Linked DNA regions of Homo sapiens. The protein of the gene in region 2 purifies or fractionates together with the protein of the main gene of each other region. This does not show direct contact. Each region holds a gene or a part of one and is shown on either strand. Other genes may lie near its edges.

Region 1 (3,508 bases), on a different chromosome or scaffold from region 2:
GTTTCGAAGGGCTGCTCTGAAATCATAGTGATGGAGGACCAGCTTTGGACAAGGCACTTAACCTTGCTGAGCCTGTTTCTTTATCTGTAAGATAGGGGAAATCATAGTACTTGCTTCATAAGGTTGTAGTGAGGACTGAATAGAGATAATGCACGTAAGGTACTCAGTAAATGTTATTTGTACCCTGCAAATGTCCTGTACCTGTGTGTGATGCTTATGCAGTTGGACAGGACAAGTAAGGTGGCCCAGAGCACAGAGAGGCCCTCATAGCCAGATGCCATTTATATCCCTATTCTTCCCATTCTAGATCTCCCCCTGACTTTTTTGAGAGTGACTTTGCGGGCTCCTCTGGGCCAGTACCCACTTCTAACAATGGACGGATTTCCACCGCCTCCGGCCTGGCCATTTCCTGTTCTCTTCCAGGGTGTGAGAGGTTGAGGGAGGAGGGGGCCTCAGCGCCAAGGGGAACAGAAAGGTGCCTGGAAACAGTTGGGGTATAGGACTTATGGGACAGGACACTTGGGGCTCTGGAGTGCTGGCTGGGAAGCAGAATGTTTTATCCTTGAGGGGAGATACAGGGGCTATAGGGAAATGAGAACTTGTTGAGCACTGAAGGGGGTGGTGAGGATACTTAGCTTCCCAGAATCTTCCTAGCAGTTTTAGGGACTCCAGGGACCCAGCCCGCGTGATCTGGTTGCCAGGGCAACTTCATTTTTTGGAGCTTTGATGTTGTTCCTAATCTCCCCCTCCCCTTCCTCAGCAGTGCCTCCTCCTCATCAGGGAATGAGGGGAGGAGATGGCAGAAACTTGATGGGTCCCTTCCTCTCCCTGAAGGCTCAATCCTTGATCTCTAAGGGTCCCATTTCCATTCCTCAGGCCAGGCCCCACTCTCAGGGCCCCCAGGGGCCACCATGCCAGCTGGGGGCCGGGCCGGGAGCCTGAAGGACCCAGATGTGGCTGAGCTCTTCTTCAAGGATGACCCAGAAAAGCTCTTCTCTGACCTCCGGGAAATTGGCCATGGCAGCTTTGGAGCCGTATACTTTGTGAGTTGGGTCTTGGGAGGGTGTAATAGGGATGGGGACTCTTCCTATCCCTGTGGACTTCCCAACAGCCCTTGCACACTACTCCATCACACTGGTCTTTCCTGCCTTCTCTTGCTGGGCCAGCAAGTCTTCCCATGCCCGGCTCTCAATGGGGCCTTCAACACCTTCTGGTCTGGTCCTCTAGGCCCGGGATGTCCGGAATAGTGAGGTGGTGGCCATCAAGAAGATGTCCTACAGTGGGAAGCAGTCCAATGAGGTGGGCCAGGTGCAATACAGCCAGGTTGGGGACAGGGGACTCCTGTCTCAAGATGCAAGCTGGGTAACCTCTGCCTACCCTGACCCCCTAGAAATGGCAAGACATCATCAAGGAGGTGCGGTTCTTACAGAAGCTCCGGCATCCCAACACCATTCAGTACCGGGGCTGTTACCTGAGGGAGCACACGGCTTGGGTGAGCTGGTGCCAGATTCTGGCCTGATCTTTACTCCTATTCATGCCCGTCCTTATCGTAGTCCAGTCTCTTAGGTGGTCCCTGTTCGTGGTGCTGTTGTGGGATCTTGGGAAGGAGGAAGTCTCTTTTGACCGCTTTAGTCCTCAGACATACCCACTGAGCAAAAGCCTGGCTCAGTGACACAGGCTGTTAGCAGGTGGGACAGGTCACTGTGGGCTGGAGAAGGTGGAGATTGAATGGGAGTTTGAAGGGATTCAGATGGGCAGTGGTGAATGTCTTGGGCCCAGACTCTAGAAACTCTCCCACCACCCCCTCATTGTCTCCAGTTGCGCTTCCTCCCTGTCATCACCCCGGGGACATAGCTTGAGTACAGGACAGTCAAGGAAGCTCTGTTTTGAGTCCCTGCCCAGGAGACTCTGATCTCTGACCCTTGTCTCTTCCTTAGCTGGTAATGGAGTATTGCCTGGGCTCAGCTTCTGACCTTCTAGAAGGTAAGTGACTGATAGGCCAATAAGTGGAGAAGGGAGAAGAGCAGGGGAGCCATAGGGAAGGGTTAAGGGGAGTTTATTCCAGTCCCACCCTTGCGCTCCCTCGGGTTGATGTTCTTCCTCACTCTCCAGTGCACAAGAAACCCCTTCAGGAGGTAGAGATCGCAGCTGTGACCCACGGGGCGCTTCAGGGCCTGGCATATCTGCACTCCCACAACATGATCCATAGGTACAAGCAGCACCGGCAGTGCCTGGGAGGGGAGTGCTATCTGCACCACCTGTCACTTAGCTGGGCTGCCCCTGCCTAGCTTTCTTGAGACACATGTCTCATCCCTGTACTTTGCCTCTGGCAGGGATGTGAAGGCTGGAAACATCCTGCTGTCAGAGCCAGGGTTAGTGAAGCTAGGGGACTTTGGTTCTGCGTCCATCATGGCACCTGCCAACTCCTTCGTGGGCACCCCATACTGGTGAGTGAGTGAGTGGTGGTGAGTGGAGAGACCTCCCAGGGATGTTGGGAGTAGGAGTGACAGGGTCTCGGCGGGTGATTTGCCTCTCTCTCCTGACCATTCTCCTAGGATGGCACCCGAGGTGATCCTGGCCATGGATGAGGGGCAGTACGATGGCAAAGTGGACGTCTGGTCCTTGGGGATAACCTGCATCGAGCTGGGTAAGAACATCCTCCCTGTTCCCTCATCATCTTTTCCATTCTTTCCTGTTAGTTCCCAGACTCCGGACTACCCCCTTCTCCTAGGGATGGGATCCCAGGCCTCCAAGTTCCTGTCCGTTGTGACTCTACCCTGGAGCCCAATACAGGCAGCTGGCAAATTCTGCCAGCTCTTAGGCCTAGAGATTTTGTAGCATTCATCTCTTCCTGTCCACTACCCTGGTTCTGAATCTTTTCTTAGTGCCCACCATGTGCTGTGCCATGGACTGTGATTCTGGAGGGATAGCAGTGAATGAAAATCCTGCCCTCATGGAACTTACATTTGATTTAGGGAAACCAGGCAGGCATGTTTTCTTTCAATGTGATGAACGCTGTGTGGAGAAGTTACAGGAGCGGTTCAAATGTAAAACAGGGGACTTGACCTAGTTTAGGGGCTGAAGAAGGCCTCCTTGTAGGAGAATATTGAAGCCAACCTGCAAGATAAATAATAGCTGTTTGCAGAATGTAGGGAAGAGCTTTCCAGGCAGAGAGAACAGCATGTGAGAGGCCTAGAGGTAAGTGCAGGCCTGGGGAACTGGGACTAGCTTCAGTTATTTGGAACCTAGCATGTAATGCAGAGAATATTGAAGGATAAGGCCAGAGAGTTAGGTCCAAGTGAGTTCCTAAGGCCTTGAAGCCATGCCAAGGTTCTCATCTCTGTCAGCCAGCACTATTGAAACAATTCTTTAATGAGGTAGGTAACCTTTATAAGGCTTCCAACACAATGCCAGGCACAAAACAGTTGCCTAAGAGTTGCTGTTAGTTTCTCTTATCAACAGCCTCCTGCAGTGATCTCTCCAGTCTCTTCTCCCTTCCAGTCTGTCT
Region 2 (4,063 bases):
TTTAAATTACAATAGAAATAATGGGAGAATGATGTGAGGTAATGTTACATGTAAAATGTTATACACAATTCTTTTACTACGTTTACTGTCATAGTTTTATGACGCCTTCAAGAGTCATTGTGCTACTTAAAGTGAGGATCTGCTGGTTTGTTTATATTTTCAGCTAATAGCACCATCGTGGAGGTGTTTATCCACTTACTACATGTATCATGTCTGGGGGGTATATTTAGGGGGATAGTCATGCTGGCACTCAGATTACAAGTTTTTCCTATGAACCAAAATGTTGTTTTATTTACAAAATAAGTAAGTATTATTTTGTAAATAATTAAAACTTAAAAATTCCAACCCCCACTTGTACTTTCATTAGATAATATTTTTGCATACCTGAAAAAATACTGTTCTCTAGTGAAAGAAAGAGCAAGTGGGGGTTGGGAAGGGGTAACTTATGACTTCAACAGCATAAGAGGATAGATAACCAATGGAATTAATACATCGAATGATTTCTTCTGTATAAAAGTATATTTTATTTAAAAACAGTGATATTGACATGTATGTTATAGCCCTTACAGAAAAATAACACGTTTTATAGTCCTTTTATTTGAAATTCAGTGTAAATCACTCTTAAACTATAAATTCACAGTTGTTGGAGGTTTTTTTTTACTTTAAATGATGTGAAAGCATTTGTTCCATTCAAAGGCCCCTATGCCTTTGAATGACATATTCTCAGTAACTTCTTTGCCAGTAACTAGAGTATGTGAGACTGAGTAACTATAATGTGCATATTTCAAGAATTAGCTTCCCGCTGCATTATAACACATTTCCTAGGAAAGCCTTTGTATTTTTCATAGCCTTTTCACATATCCCTCATTTAAGAAGTCACAGTGTTGCAGTTTTACTTTGTTTCAGAGGGGAAGGCCATCTTGTTGGCATAAGGGGGACAGAAGATATAATATACTCTACACTCCGGCCTCTTCCCTACAACCTAAAAGGGAGAGGAGTTGAGGCAGATGGGCTAGGACTAGGCTTTTTGGTAGGCACATTATAGAAGACTGGGTAAGAAAGGTGGGTTAGGTTTTTTTAAACTTCAAACTGTTAGGAAAACGAGGCAAAAGCAATAACCATACCATATGTTCAAACAGAAGTAGGTTAAAATGTAGTAGTTATCCCTTGGTTTACATAGGGGATTGGTTCCAGGAACTTCCACATATACCCAAATCCATACGTGAGAACTCAAGTCCTGCAGTTGGCCCTTTGGAACCTGAGTATATGAACCTGCTCTATAAGTGGGTTTCGTGTTTGGTTAATGATATATTTTTGACTCGTTTATAGTTGAAAATAGTCCATGCATAAGTGGACCCTTGCAGTTCAAACCTATGTTGCTCAAGGGTCAAATGTATTTACTTCTGGATTATGGGATGATGGGTAAATTATTTTTACTTGGCTACTTAAAACTCTTCTGTATTTTCTAAATCTTCTTCAAAGAGCTTTGTTTGTTTTTAATCAGAAAAACATGCCTTGCATGCCAGTTGTTAGAGAGATGCAAGAGAACAGTGTGAGTACATGGGCAGGCCAGATCTGGCAGGCTGTAGACAAATGGGAACCAAGGCTCATTATGAAGACAGAGAGGGAAAACTAAGTGAAGCACTAGGCCTCCCCTGCATATGGCTGGCTGTTAGGTATGCTTTACATATACTGGTTCTTCTCCTTTAGTACCCTGATGGTTTAGGCCAGGTAACAAGAATCCCACTTTGCTTTTTGTTCCATGTCAATCCTCATGACGTAGCTGTTGTGGCATTAATGCGTTTCACCATGACTTCTTCATATTGTTTTTGTGTCAGTAACCCTTCTGTTATGCTTTTACTTTCTTCAAATTTGGGTAACACAACTGCAATGTAGCCTTCAGTAGATGGCTGGAAAGGAAAGAACATTTAGTACTGTCAAACGATGAAAAAAAAACCAATAAAAGGTATGTGGATGAGATCATATTTTTTCTCTCTCTTTTACCTTTTCTTGAAGAATAGATGGCTTATGGAGGATGTTTTCATTCACTTCCATCAAACGTCCTCTAACACAACTATTAAAAAAATTTAAGATTTCAGCATGTTTACTTAGTTAAAAAAAATTGTTTCTAAGAAAAAAAATTACCTCCCTTTGGTCTCCTAAATGGTGGCTAAAAAGTTACTCACCTAGACACAGTATATTCTTCACCATCTGAGCAGTAAATCTTACAGAGAGGTGCAAGCTCTGTTAGAAACTGTGCCCCCTGTGTAATGAGACGGAAGAAGTAATCAGTTGATGGACATTTCCACTTTCCTTTGAGAAGTAGCCCTTAGGTGTATAACAGGATGTATTCCTGGAACTGGTGTTTTAAATCAGTTACTTCAGTATATAAAAACCATTCATTAATTTCAGAACCTATATGAATATAAGTACCTACTGTGTGCCAGGTGCCATCCTAGGTCTAGGGAAAAAAGCTAAGACACATGATAAATGGGAATTTACAGACTGATAATATATTTTATCAACTGTAAATGAAAAAGCTACATATAACCAGGTATAAAGATTTCAAAAGTGTGGGAAAATCCATCAACAAGAAACAATATAAAATTCAACATGACACAGTATGACAGCAATATTGTATAAAGTTAGTTTCATTAAGATTTCTACCTCATTTTAATATTAGAACTTAATAGATAAAGGAACTTATTTACCAGGGTCAATCACTAAGACTTTTTGAAGAAGGGATATTGTTCTTTCCCCCCCCCCCCTTTGTAATTCCCCAGTGTGTTAGTAAGGGATATTTTTTCTAGTTAAGAAAAACAAAAACAAAAACATGCACTTTGAGGAAAATGTGGAAAACAAAAGTTTTAAGCAGCAAAATAAAAATAATTGACCCATGAGTCAATACTACATTTTGATGTGTATGTATTTGAATGTCATGGCATGGTTATTGTTTCATGTACTCCACTAGATGGATATACCTGGGGAGGCTCTCACAAGTATCTACAGGGAGGCTCATGAGAGCCAGTGCAGGCATGTTTCATGTGTTGCCCTCTTTTCTCCCATGAATTTTTCCTGTAGTGGACATAGGCATTTCAGGTTAAGATGCTATTCTTTATGACCCCTTTATTTACCACTCAAAACATTTTTAGATGGCATTCAGATATTACTATATTGGCTTCACTCCTCCGCACGTGGGTTCTTCATTTTAAAATACTAGAGTCATTGTGACTTTCTGCTTTTGGAAGGAAGGGGAAGGCTTGTGTTAAAAGAGCAGACACAAAAGAGCTAGGTCTGTGCCAAAACAGCAGAAATGTTTTGATGCCTTTTTGTCACCTCCTTTGGGAGAATGATTGGCAGTTCTGAGATCCAGTGAAAACTTACTGTAGTGGGTTCAATATGCAGGTCCCTCTCTGTTCTTCACTTGTAACAGGAGTGTTACTTTTTTTTTTTTTTTTTTTTGAGACAGGGTCTTGTTCTGTCATCCAGGCTGGAGTGCAGTGCTGCCATCATGGCTCACTGCAGCCTTGACTCCTGTGCTCAAGCAATCCTCTTACCTCAGCCTCCTGGGTAACTGGGACTATAGGCACATGCCACCATGCCCAGCTAATTAAAAAAAAATTTTTTTTTTTTGGTAGAAATGAGGTCTTGTTATGTTGCCTAGGTTTGTCACAAATTCCTGGCCTCAAGTGATCTTCCCGCCTCGGCTTCCCAAAGTGCTGGGATTACAGGCATGAGCAACTGTACCTGCCTTAAGTGTTACTATTTTGGACAGAGATTTATCATTGAAACTTCAGAAGTCTTAAGTGTTATTGTAACTTGTAGACTATCGTTTAAGAGAGGTGCATGCTTTTCTAAGTCCACTAGTTTCTTGAGTGAGGAAAAATCAGTAATTGTAAAGCACAATAAATCAGTAATTATTAGGGGACTTCAGGCCTACAAAGGGGGGTTTGAATAAGGGTCTCCTAGAATAGTGAGAGCAATTAGCAGAAACTCTTAGTATGAACTCAGTAAATGAACGACTTAAATCATCCACAGAAACTTTCCCAACCAGTGGGTTTGT
Region 3 (3,508 bases), on a different chromosome or scaffold from region 2:
CTTCTAATGTTTTTGGTGTCCCATTGTTTTACTTTTTTTGATAGCCATGTTTGTCAAGTAGAATGTAGACTTCTCAGTAAATTCACACAATATCATTAAAATATGTCCAGGTAGTCTGCAGTGAGGCATTATTTATCATAGCTACCCTCTTCTCCCTTTTCACAAAAAAAGAACATTCTTATAGTAGTAGGGACCCTGACAAAATAATTTATAGTATAAATACATACTTGATTTTGAAATAATTTGATGAAACAATGTATACATATTTAAAATCCTCTGGGCATTGGATATTTTCATTTTTTTATTTTTTATTTTATTTTTATTATTTTTTGAGACAGAATCTCCCTCTGTCGCCCAGGCTGGAGTGCAGTGGTGTGATCTCAGCTCACTGCAACCTCTGCTCTCCAAGTTCAAACAATTCTCCTGCCTCAGCCTCCCAAGTAGCTGAGACTACAGGTGCATCTACCATGCCTGGCTAATTTTTCATCTACCATGCCTGGCTAATTTTTGTATTATTTTTATTTTAGTAGAAAAGGGGTTTCACCATGTTAATCAGGCTGGTCTCAAATCCCTGACCTCAGGTGACCTTCCTGCCTCGGCCTCCCAAAGTGCTGGGATTATAGATGTGAGCCACCACACTTGATAGATATTATTTTTAATAGCTTGGGAAAAGGCGATACTAACATATTTAGGAAAACAATTCCTGAAGCAGATATGCAATGTGGTAACAAATTTGTTTTAAAAGTATATAACCAGGATGGGTGCAGTGGCTCACACCTGTAATCCCACCACTTTGGGAGGCCGAGGTGAGAAGATTACTTGAGCCCAGGAGTTCAAGACCAGCCTGGGCAACATGGGAAGACTCTGTCTCCACACACAAAAAAAATAAATTAGCTGAGCAGGGTGGCATACGCCTTTAGTTCCAGCTACTCAGGAGGCTGAGGTGGGAAGATCACTTGAGCTCAGGAGGAGGCTGCAATGAGCCATGATTGTACCACTGCACTCCAGCCTGGGTGACAGAGTGAGACCCTGTAACATATTTTTTGAGACAGGCACTCGCCCTGTTACCCAGCTGGTCTTGAACTCCTGGGCTCAGGTGATCCTCCCACCTCAGCCTCTCAAAGTGTTGGGATTACAGGTATGAGCCACAATACCTACTTAATTATATACATGCAAATATATGTGTGTATGTGTATGTGTGTGTGTTTGAGACATGAACATTTATAGAAAAAATTAGAGGCCGGGCATGGTGGCTCACGCCTGTAATCCCAGCACTTTGGGAGGCCGAGGTGGGTGGATCACCTGAGCTCAGGAGTTCAAGACCAGCTTGGCCAACATGGCAAAACCCCATCTCTTCTAAAAATACAAAAATTAGCCAGGCGTGGTGTCACACACCCGTAGTCACAGCTACTTGGGAGGCTGAGGCAGGAGAATCACTTGAACCCGGGAAGCGGAGGTTGCAGTGAGCCGAGCTCGTGCCACTGCACTGCAGCCAGGGTAACAGAGCAAGACTCCATCTCAAAAATAATAATTTTAAAAAAAGAAAAAATTGCAAAAGATATGCACCAAAATGTTTACATTGGTTATCTCTGGATGCCAAAATTATGTAAGATGTTTCTTGTTTTTCTGTATTTTGTAAATATTCTACAATGAACATGTATTGCATATAGAATCAGAAATAAAATATAGCATTTGTTTTGTTTTACTGAGGGATTGAGGGTTGGGAGGAAGGTATACTTCTGTTAAATGAAATAAAAAGTTGACAACATTTTTGACCCTGTAAGAGATCAACATTTCAAAGATGAGTTTCATCTTACTGATTCTATGAAGTTCAAATTATAAGGATGCCAAGTAGCACATGTTTATAATTTGGTTCAGTCTTTTATTTTGGTAATGTTTCTAATGATTTCTTGTTCTTAGAAAATAAAAGGTATTCTTAATGATGTATATTAAACCACTACTTTATCTACTTAACTAAATTTGATTCATTTTTTAAACTTCATATAGGCTAAAGTGATGTCCAATGAAGAGAAAAAATTTCAGCAACATATTCAGGCCCAACAGAAGAAAGAACTGAATAGTTTTCTCGAGTCCCAGAAAAGAGAGTATAAACTTCGAAAAGAGCAGCTTAAAGAGGTACTTATGTCATAAAACTTTCCAAGCAAATTTTCTGCTTATTAATTATATCCAATGGTGACCAACTCATAGAAGCATTAGGATAAAATTATCTTTTGTTGTTTATGGTCACTAAATGGGTATTAGTTTAAATGATGACATTGATTATAATCAGTTACCCTTAACTGAGTCATTTAGTTGAGTAGGATTTAAAATGAATCATTTCCTGAAAATATACTTTTTTTATGTTTTTATTTTATATTTATTTATTTATTTTTGAGACAAAGAGTCTCGCTCTGTCACCCAGGCTCGAGTGCAGTGGCGCGCTCTCGGCTCACTTCAAGCTCTGCCTACTGGGTTCACACCATTCTCCTGCCTCAGCCTCCCTAGTAGCTGGGACTACAGGCGCCCACCACCACACCCGGCAAACATTTGGTATTTTTTTTAGTAGAGACGGGGTTTCACCATGTTAGCCAGGATGGTCTCGATCTCCTGACCTTGTGATCCGCCTGCCTCGGCCTCCCAAAGTGCTAGGATTACAGGCATGAGCCATCGTGCCTGGCCTTATGTTTTTATTTTTTGTGTGTATTTTTTGAGACAGTCTTATTCTGTTCCACGGGCTGGAGTGCAGTGGCACAATCATAGCTCACTGCAGCTTCGACCTCCCGTGCTCAAGCAATCCTGCTTTAGCCTTCCAAGTAGCTGGGAACACAAGCACACACCACCACTCCTGGCTGATTTTTAAATTTATTTTTTGTAGAGACAGGGTCTTGCCATGTTGCCTAGTCTGGTCTCAAACTCCTGGGCTCAAGCAGTCCGCCTACCTCGGCTTCCCAAAGTGCTGGGATTATAGGCATAAGCCACCGCACCTGATCACATTTATTACTTTAAAAGTAAACAATAATGTCTTACTTTTGGATCAGAAGATTATAATAATTTGTTTTTATGCCAATTTAAATGTAGAATAAGGGAGATATTTGCTTATCAGGTTTTTTTTAAGTAGAATATGCTGATTATTTCTTTGTGGCTACAGGGTTTCATATTTGTTTGCCCTTTCTTGTGCTGCCCGGCCTCCCCCCTACCCCCCGCTTTTTTTTTGAGACGGAAGTCTCACTCTGTCATACAGGCTGGAGTGCAGTGGTGTGATCTTGGCTCACTGCAGCCTCCCCTCCCCCCAGGTTGAAAGGATTCTCCTGCCTCAACCCCCCCGAGTAGCTGGGATTACAGGTGTGTGCCACCATGCCTGGCTAATTTGTATATATTTTTTTAGTAGAGACGGGGTTTCACCATGTTAGCCAGGCTGGTTTCAAACTCCTGACCTCAGACAATCTACCCACCTCGGCCCCCCAAAGTGCTGGGATTACAAGAGTTAGCCACCACTCCCGGCTCTTGT
Region 4 (3,508 bases), on a different chromosome or scaffold from region 2:
TGGCACTATCTCGGCTCACTGCAAGCTCCACCTCCCGGGTTCACGCCATTCTCCTGCCTCAGCCTCCTGAGTAGCCGGGACTACAGGCGTCTACCACCGCACCCGGCTAATTTTTTTTATATTTTTTAGTAGAGACAGGGTTTCACCGTGTTAGCCAGGATGGTCTCAATCTCCTGACCTCATGATCCGCCCGCCTCCCAAAGTGCTGGGATTACAGGCGTGAGCCACCGCGCCCAGCCAAAAAGCTCACATCTTAAGAAAATTCAATCTTCCTGTTCAAGCACAGGAACCATCTTCCCATTTCAGTTTCCTTCTAAGGTTCCTCAGTAAAGAACATATTTACATACTGTACATTGATATAAAATCCATACTGGATTTTATTTGAAGAATATTTAGCCCTGAAGTTGATGTGTTATGGGGCTTCGTTCTTAGTTCTCAATATACACTTTTCTATAATGTATAGAACATTGTTTTAAAATCTGTAGATTAAAAATAATCTGCTGCATTGACTTAATTAATTTTGCAAGTTAAATCACTTTAAAACAGTCTATTAGTGTTCTATGAGGGAAATTATGATTGGAAATCAGCTAAAGTTTTGTTTTTGTGTTGCTGTTCATAAAGGGCCCTGTACCCTGACCTCTCTGAGGTTTCCACATCCAGGGTGGTGTGAGGCCTGCGGAGGCGAGAAAGCCAGGTCCCCCTCCTCCCCCGCCAGGAGGGTATGTCCCCATCATCCCCCCACGTCCCACCTCCTCCCAGCCCAGGCCTGGTTACCTCTTTTGCTTGTCCTGCTTGTTCACGTCAGTGTCCCTGAGCATGACGATGAGATCCTTTCTGGGGACTTTACCCCACCAGGCAGCTCTGTGGAGCTTGTCCAGATCTTCTCCACGGACGTGGTACCTGGGCTCCATGAAGGCACTGTCATCGTAGTCTCCCCAAGCGCCCACCTTGCTCTTGCTGCTCCCCCTGCAGCAGGGGAAGCAGTGGCAGCACCACTTGCCCATCTTGTTCCTGAGTGTCTTCATAGCAGAGTCGTCGTGGTCTCCAGAAGCGCCCACGTTGCTCTTGCCACTCCCCCTGCAGCAGGGGAAGCAGTGGCGGCACCACTTGCCCATCTTGCTCCTGAGTGTCTTCATAGCAGAGTCGTCGTGGTCTCCAGAAGTGCCCACGTTGCTCTTGCCGCTCTCCCTGCAGCAGGGGAAGCAACGGCAGCACCACTTGCCCATCTTGCTCCTGAGACCAAATGGCTTCTTCACAGAAGAGGCAGCCGGCATGGAATCAACCTCAACCACCATCTGCTTTTAACAGCCAGGAGAAGCCAGTAGTAGCCAACAGATCGCGTCTACCAACCAGTTTCACCAACTAGCAGGTAACTCCGGGTTTCCAATCTGTTTGAAGAGAAAAGTCAATCCCAGCCAAAACCTGCCAACCCCAGCAGGGGATTCCAGCCCAGCCCACCCCACCCAGGGAAAACCCACACCCACCCGAGGAAAGCCCACGCCCCCCCTGGGCGACCCCACGCCCACCCCAGAAAGGGCCAACCCCCGCCCCCAAGAAAACACCCAGCCCACCCAAGGGAATGCCAAACCCAGCAGAGAAAAGGTCAAGCCCAGCAAAGGAACACGAGAGAGAAAACGTCAATCCAAGCAGGAAACGTCAATCCAAGCTACCAACGCCAAGCCAAGCCAAGAACGCAAAGCCAAGCCAAGCCGCTACAGGCCAGCCAAGCCGTTAAAGCGCGTGCAGCATGCGCGTGCAAGCCATTACAGGCCAGCCAAGCCGTTACGCGCGTGCGGCGTGCGCGTGCAAGCCGTTACAGGCCGGCCAAACCGTTATGCGCGTGCGGCGTGCGCGTGCAAGCCGTTACAAGCCAGCCAAGCTGCTGCCGGGCGTGTGCGCGCGGCGTGCGCGTGCGCGTGCGGCGTGCTTATCTCAGGTGGCGTCAGGGCACGTGGCACAGACACTGGCCGATGCATGCAACGCGCCTGCTTAAGTCTTGGCGCCACGAATGTCACTGACAGCCTTGAGTTCCGGCAAACTTCGTGGGAGTCAGCTGAGCTTTCAAGCCACTGAGAAGCCTCTGGTGAAAAAAAAAAAGCCTCTTAAAGGAGGACTGGGGCTAAGCGTCTGGAACTTGAGGATGCTGACAGCCTCCTTTGAAAAAAGCCCCCAGGACACTCCTGGCGGTGCTGTTGTGCATGGCAGCAGCTGCAGCTGGGAGCTCGGGCTGACGGAGCTGGCTGCAAATGGCCTCAAAATCGCGGAGCACAAGACGCCCACCGAGCCCAGGGCCTGCCTGAGGTGCCTTCAACACCTGCTCCTCTTTGCTCCGCACCCAGAACACGAGGCCATCAGCAAGGGGGCATTTGGGGCCACAGGATTGCAGCCAGCTCCTGCCCCGGTGCAGTGTATACAGTGTATACTGCACAGGTGTTGGGTGCACCAAAATCTCCTGAATCACCTCTAAAGAACTTACTCATATAATCAAACACCACCTTTTCCCCAAAACCCTAGGAAATAAAATGAAGAACTTTTTGTTTATGCATACCACATATTTTTTAACTTTTTTCACAGGTTCATTGAGATACAATTTATATATTATTTAATTCACTCATTTAAAGTATAAAATTCAGTTTTTTAAGTGTATTAACTAGTTAAACAATCACCATGATTTTAGAACATTTTTATGCTCCTTAAAAGAAACTTTGCACCCATTAGCAATCTTTCCCTATTTTCCCCATTCTTCCTTTAAACCTCTCCCAGCCCTAGGCAATCATCCATCTATTACCTAAGAATTTGCCTATTCTGGAAGGATTTGCCTATTCTGGACATTTCATGTAAGTGGAATCATAATAATATAGTTACGTGTGACTTACTACTTTCATTTATCATGTTTTCAATGTTCATCCTTTTTGGAGCATGTATTAATATGTTTTTCTTTTTCATTGCCAAGTAATATTTTATTTTATGGACAGACCACATTTTATTAATCCACTCCAAAATTCATGGACATTTCTGTTGTTTCCTACTTTTTGTTGCTATAAATACTTTTATGTGTAAGGCATTTGTTTTAATTTATTTTTGGTGTATACATAGGAGTGAATTTACTGAGTCATGTGGTAATTCTGTATTTAACCTTTGAAGAACGGCTTCATTTTTCTGCATGTGGCTTGCCAATTATACCAGCAGCATATGTTGAATAGGGTGTCCTTTCCCATTTTCTTGTTTGCTTTGTCAAAGATTAGGTAGTCTGATGCCTCCAGGTTTGTTCTTTTTGCTAAAGATTGCTTTCGTTTTTCAGCATCTTTTGTGGTTCCATTCAGATTTTAGGACTAATTTTTCTATTTCTGTGAAGAATGACATTGGAATTTGACAGCGGTTGCATTTAATCTGTAGAATGCTTTGAGTAGCATTGAAATTTTGACAATATTAATTTTTTCAATTGATATAGGACTTTTTCTATTTGTCACTTTCAATTTCTTTCATCAATGTGCTATAATTTTCAGTA

Evidence for each region. Proteins that work in one complex are often made in the same cells at the same time.
Region 1: the proteins of ABITRAM (region 2) and TAOK2 purify together in Homo sapiens (affinity purification with mass spectrometry; 2 studies listed by BioGRID and IntAct, with this or other methods). This does not show direct contact.
Region 3: the proteins of ABITRAM (region 2) and TAOK1 purify together in Homo sapiens (affinity purification with mass spectrometry; 2 studies listed by BioGRID and IntAct, with this or other methods). This does not show direct contact.
Region 4: the proteins of ABITRAM (region 2) and POTEF purify together in Homo sapiens (affinity purification with mass spectrometry; 2 studies listed by BioGRID and IntAct, with this or other methods). This does not show direct contact.

Annotation. Positions count from the first base shown.
Region 1 is NC_000016.10:29,976,862-29,980,369, forward strand, and holds part of TAOK2 (serine/threonine-protein kinase TAO2), read left to right. Parts: intron 1-876; 5' UTR 877-911; coding exon 912-1,043; intron 1,044-1,227; coding exon 1,228-1,299; intron 1,300-1,390; coding exon 1,391-1,492; intron 1,493-1,937; coding exon 1,938-1,983; intron 1,984-2,112; coding exon 2,113-2,209; intron 2,210-2,333; coding exon 2,334-2,447; intron 2,448-2,555; coding exon 2,556-2,647; intron 2,648-3,508. UniProt on the Homo sapiens protein: Serine/threonine-protein kinase involved in different processes such as membrane blebbing and apoptotic bodies formation DNA damage response and MAPK14/p38 MAPK stress-activated MAPK cascade.
Region 2 is NC_000009.12:108,937,396-108,941,458, reverse strand, and holds the end of ABITRAM (protein Abitram), read right to left. Parts: intron 2,264-4,063; coding exon 2,187-2,263; intron 2,075-2,186; coding exon 2,005-2,074; intron 1,911-2,004; coding exon 1,773-1,910; 3' UTR 505-1,772; downstream 1-504. UniProt on the Homo sapiens protein: Actin-binding protein that regulates actin polymerization, filopodia dynamics and increases the branching of proximal dendrites of developing neurons.
Region 3 is NC_000017.11:29,508,857-29,512,364, forward strand, and holds part of TAOK1 (serine/threonine-protein kinase TAO1), read left to right. Parts: intron 1-2,007; coding exon 2,008-2,136; intron 2,137-3,508. UniProt on the Homo sapiens protein: Serine/threonine-protein kinase involved in various processes such as p38/MAPK14 stress-activated MAPK cascade, DNA damage response and regulation of cytoskeleton stability. Phosphorylates MAP2K3, MAP2K6 and MARK2.
Region 4 is NC_000002.12:130,119,221-130,122,728, forward strand, and holds part of POTEF (POTE ankyrin domain family member F), read right to left. Parts: intron 2,079-3,508; exon of another isoform or gene 1,389-2,078; 5' UTR 1,296-1,388; coding exon 775-1,295; intron 1-774.